Linked DNA regions of Homo sapiens: region 2 is linked to region 1. The links come from fine-mapping of genetic effects on gene expression. Tissue or cell type: whole blood. Region 1 holds a variant in brackets; the other region holds the start of a gene. All regions are shown on one strand. Distances are from middle to middle.

Evidence for each region. PIP is the estimated chance that this variant, and not a neighbour inherited with it, causes the effect.
Region 2: ZFYVE16 starts here. The variant in region 1 is fine-mapped to the expression of ZFYVE16 in whole blood (INTERVAL, PIP above 0.99).

Annotation. Positions count from the first base shown.
Region 1 is chr5:80,551,448-80,554,205 of GRCh38, forward strand. No RefSeq gene overlaps it. Among named protein-coding and RNA genes, the nearest start is that of ANKRD34B, 17 kb to the right of the region's middle. The variant TA/T (reference allele first, on the strand shown) is at 1,519.
Region 2 is chr5:80,406,387-80,409,144 of GRCh38, forward strand. It overlaps ZFYVE16 (zinc finger FYVE-type containing 16), which reads left to right and starts at 1,678. Exons shown (of 19, transcript NM_001284236.3): 1 at 1,678-1,767. RefSeq lists an enhancer at 1,640-2,438 and a silencer at 2,159-2,278.

The DNA of each region.
Region 1 (2,758 bases):
AGACTTTAAAGATTATTCAGTAAATGGAATCTTTTTTGTTAAATCTCTGATTTAACCTCTCCTCTTCCATGTCCATCTCCTCTTCCTCTTTCCAAAAGTGGTGACTCAGATCTTCCTAGGACAGGCTTTTCCATAGATAGACAGCTCCAGTAGCTAAGAGAGAACTGAAATATTTCTGTAACTTAATTTTCTGGTTCTAACTTATCTTTATTTGGAGGACTCTGAATAAGTCATTACATTGGTTCTGTTAGTATCTAAGGCCAGCCATCTAATCTCAACTGAGTCTTTTTATCTCCAAGCTAAGCAACAATTCTTTTACTTATTTAAAAAAAATGTTTTAGATTCTATCATTTTTCATCTTTTACTGCATATTCTTTAGTTTAAGATGTGGTATCTAGAATTAAAAACACTATTTCACATTTGATCTATGAGTGCTAAGATTCAGGAGTAGACACTGATTAAATAATGTAGTCAGGCTGTTAGCACTCCCAACAAACCTGCATTAGTTAATTAACTGCCATTTTTCCCCACGTTGTTTCAAATTAGGATCATTAAGATGGAAAGCATCCCTTCAGTGATTATGAGAGACGTAAGAGAGAAATAAAGGTTTTATTACTTACAGGTCCTGCGGTACACAGCATACCTGGAGCCCACATGCAGGGATGTCAGGGAGTGCATGGAGAGAGAGAGGAAGGGACCCGTGGGTCAACACCTTTATTGGGTCCAGGGTGTTAGCCAAACAGGTTTCCCAGGGGGAGTTTGAATTGGTGAGTTTAAGGCATGGGTTCTAGGAGGTCACATGGTGACTAAGAGGTGACCGCTGTGGCACATATGCACAATCCATGTGGGGTGTGAGTGTCAGTGGGGCCAGTTAAGCAGGGTGTATCTAGTTGTTCCATAGGGAAGTCACCAGGAAGCAGTTACATAATGTAGATACCTGGATCGACCAGGCTGAGGAACTGGGGGGCGGTGTAGAACTAGTAGTGTGTCAAGGGTGACTGAATCTTGCTTCTGGTATGAGAAAGTCCAGCTTATATTCAAAATGGATGCTGAGGTAACATAAGATTTTAAGAATTCACTAAACATATAAATTGCTGATCATCCTAATCTTATACAACTGATTTCAAAACCTAAATGTGGGTATTTATGATGCTTAAGCTTTAGGTTTTTTGTTTTGATCCATTGTTCCAGCTAATCAACACTCTTTTGGATTGTTTTTGCGATTTGTCGTGTTAGCTATTCTTCCCAGTTTTTCCTTTCCTGGCCTTCTCTTTAAGAATGATCACCTGAGGTCAGGAGTTCGAGACCAGCCTGACCAACATGGCGAAACCCTGTCTCTACTAAAAATCCAAAAATTAGCTGGGCGTGGTGGTGGGCACTGGTAACTCCAACTACTCAGGAGGCTGAGTCAGGAGAATTGCTTGAACCTGGGAGGTGGAGATTGCAGTAGCCGAGATAGTGCCATTGCACTCCAGCCTGGGTGACAGAGTGAGACTCCATCTCAAAAAAAAATAAAAA[TA/T]AAAAAAAAGACAAAAAAGAATGGTAGATATTCAGGCTGGGCACAGTGGCTCGTGCCTGTAATCCTAGAACTTTGGGAGGCCAAGGCAGGTGAATCCCTTGAGGCCAGGAGTTCGAGACCAGCCTGGCCAACATGGCGAAACCCCATCTCTACTAAAAATACAAAAATTAGCCAGGCGTGGTGGTGGGCGCCGGTAATCCCAACTACTCAGGAGGCTGAGGCAGGAGAATTGCTTGAACCCAGGAAGCAGAGGTTGCAGTGAGCCAAGATTGCGCCATTGCACCCCAGCCTAGGCAACAGAGCGAGACTCCATCTCAAAAAAAAAAAAAAAGAATGCTAGACATTCAAGCTGAGCGCAGTGGCTCGTGCCTGTAATCCCAGCACTTTGGGAGGCCAAGGCAGGCAGATCACTTGAGGCCAGGAGTTCAAGACCAGCCTAGCCAACATGGTAAAACCCCGTCTCTACTTAAAAGAAAAATTTAGCCAAGCGTGGTGGTGCACGTCTGTAGTCCCAGCTGCTCAGGAGACTGAGGCAGGAGAATCGGTGGAACCTGGGAGGCGGAGCTTGCAGTGAGCCAGATCAGGCCACTGCACTCCAGCCTGGGTGACAGAGCAAGACTCCATCTCAAAAAAAAAAAAAAAAAGAATTGTACACATTCAAAGAAGGTACACAAAGAGACAGGATGTCCTTGGGGAGGCCAGTGGGCAGCGCCAATAAATCTGGTGGGTTTGTGATGGTCTACCATCTGGCCCTTTTGGAGAATTAGAAATGGGATCTGAGGAATATTGGCATAAGGCTATATAAGCTCAAATATTATCATCCCCAATTGCACTATGTCTTCTTGTTTTAAAATGTAGGTGACACGGTTTGGCTCTGTGTCCCCACCCAAATCTCATCTTGTAGCTCTCATAATTCCCACGTGTTGTGGGAGGGGACCCAATGAGAGGTTATTGAATTATGGGGGTGAGTCTTTCCTAGTGCTGTTCTCGTGATAGTGAATGGGTCTCAGGAGATCTGATGGTTTTAAAATGGTTTTAAAAATGGGAGTTTCTCTGCACAAGCTCTTTGCCTGCTGCCATCCATGTCTTGCCTTCCAACATGATTGTAAGGCCTCCCCAGCCACGTGGAGCTGTGAATCCTATTAAACCTCTTTCTTTTGTAAATTGCCCAGTGTCAGGTATGTCTATCAGCAGTGTGAAAACGGACCAACACAGTAGGTTTAATTATTATTCAGGTAT
Region 2 (2,758 bases), 150 kb before region 1:
GAAAACCAAGGTTAAAGATTAAGTATCTTTCAAAGATCAGGAACTATAGTTGTAAACTGCAGATTTAAGATGCGAACCCTGATTCTCAAATCTTTCATCACAAATCACATGTGGCTGGAATACTCGAAAAATTATAATTCTTGCAATTTTTTTTTTTTCTTTTTTGAGACGGAGCCTTGCTCTGTCACCCAGGCTGGAGTGTGGTGGCTCGATCTTGGCTCACTGTGACCTCTGCCTCCTGGGTTCATTCAATGGTCCTGATTGTCCTGCCTCAGCCTCCCAAGTAGCTGGGATTACAGGCGCCCGCCACCACACCCAGCTAATTTTTGTATTTTTAGTAGAGACGGAGTTTCACCATGTTGGCCAGATTGGTCTCGAACTCCTGACTTCAGGTGATCCGCCTGCCTCGGCCTCCCAAAGTGCTGGGGTTACAGGCGTGAGCCACTGCGCCCGGCCAATTCTTGCGATTTTTGAAAGATCAGTATGAACTGTGAGCTGTTTAACCTTTGAGGAACTGCTTTTTCCCTGTATCTGTCTGTATCTGATCCCACATGTATGTCTCTTCCCTTGTTTTTATTTTTTATTTTTTTAGAGACACGGTCTGGTTCTGTTGCTCAGGCTGGAATGCAGTGTTGCCATCAGAGCTCACTGCAGCCTTGACCTCCTGGGCTTAAGTGATCCTCCCACTTCAGACTCCCAGCCAGTAGCTGGGACTACAGGCACGCGCCAACACGCCTGGCTAATTTTTTCATTTTCATTTTTAGTAGAGACAGGGTCTTGCTATGTTGCCCAGGCCTGTCTGGAACTCTTGACTTCAAGCGATCCTCCCGCCTCGGCCTCCCAAAGTGCTGGGATGACAGGCGTGAGCCACCGCGCCGGGTCTCATTTAAATTTATAGGAAACTTGTGGTAAAAATAGCAAAACTCAACAAGCAAATATACATCAAGTGAGTGACATTTTATTTCTACATCAGATAAGTCAGCTTTTGCTTTTAGACAGGGAGACAGCTGTTCTACCAGCTGCTTTAAAATAAAAATGCAGAACTAACGCAGCGAAGGGAAGGAAAGTGTGGCTGGGAATGTCCAGTCAGCTGGAGGGGCTTGGAGCTCGGCGTTGGCTGGGAGCATTTTTATTGCTGCCGGGAGGAGGAAGGGGAAGCGGGGGAAGCGGGGGAGGCGGGGGGGCAGCGTGTTGTAAAATCAGTTTGAAGTAAACAAAAAGTTATGTTTTCCGAGGGGCCAGCAGCGCGGAGAGCAGGCCTAGCCCGCTGCCGGGAAGGCGGGTCTGTCCAGTAGAGACCGGAACGCCGCGCAGGCTCAGCAAAGGGCTAAGGCTGGAGCCGGGGAAGCTGCCTCTAGGTTAGCGAAGGGTAAAGGAAGTCAGACACTGACGCGAGTGGCCTCCCGATCCCGCAGTCGAGTGGAGAACCGAGTCCCGACCTAAGGTCGAATCATCAGGCGTCCCCGTCACCCAACAACCCACTCAGGCACTTCCGGTAAGAAATCTAGTGCCCTTGGCTCGGAACCTGCGTCGTAGTGCGCAAGCGCCCCGGGCCTGGAGACGGCCGCGGATGCCGAGGGAGGGGGCGTGTGAGCCGAAGAGGAAAGCGTCCTCTGCGCCTGCGCTCTCTGCGCTGCCCGGTGGGGCGGGGAAAGAAGCCCTGAGCCGGGATCTGGCACTCCCAGGACTCCCGGCCGGGGTAGCTCTTCACTCCTCAGCGCGACGTCGTGTCGAGTTCCCAAAAAGCTCCGCAGGGGCTGTAGGGAGGTAAGAGCCCCCCGTGACCGGTCGTCTCGGCCTCCCCTCAGCCCTGCTGTTCCCACAGGGGGGCGGGGTGACCGCTGGACCCGCCGACCTGGGCGCTGGGTCTGGCCCTCTTCCTCTGGGGACAGAGCCTGGGCCCCGACCGATTCCTTTTCCGAGCCCCCGGAGCTGGCCGGGGAACCCTGGCCCTCCAATCTGATGTCCCCTCCTGGAGCCTGAAGGGCCAGACCGGACTGGACCGGGAGGGCAATCACGGCGGCTGTTTGCCCGGTTCCCCGCTCCCGGGCCGCCGGAGTGTTCGGCGCTCCTGGGGGAGAGACCCCAGCGGACGGAGGGAGAAGCGCCCTGGCGCCGCCGTCCCGCCTGGGGAGGGGCTGCGACTGCGGAGGGGACTGTGGTTCTTCAGGAGTGGCAGAGGCTCGGTCCCCGCAGAGGAGTCTCATCGCCGCCGGTGCTCTCGCACTGTCCATTCCCGCACCCATGCATTTTCTCTTGGTTAGAGACCAGAAGGATGCAGTGGCCGTCTTTCCCGCTGCCTTTCCTTTGGTACTTTTGAGAACTCCAAAAGAGGACCTTATTTTTAACTCTTATTTGTACTATCGTGATTGCAAATATTATGTTCCAGACTAAGGATGTTCTTTCTTATTAGTTTGACTTGTATGAAAACCAGTCCATACATTTGATATTAAGTTAATCTTTTCAATTCAAAAAATAGGCACTTTGTTGATTCAATCAGATTCCTCCATTTATTCACTTGAGCTTGTCGTCTCTTGAGTTGGCGGGAGTTTAATGGTTTAATCCAGTAGAACTATATATAATTTTTCGCCTAATTTCTTCCTTTTTTTCCTCTCCTGGATATTAAACCGCATGCTTAGTGGCAAAAATTGAAAAAATAGAATAAAGAATAAGGAAAAATGATCAATCATAATTCCACCATGTAATAGTAATCAATTACTTATAATATTTTGACTTTTTTCCTTTGAGTCTTTTTTTC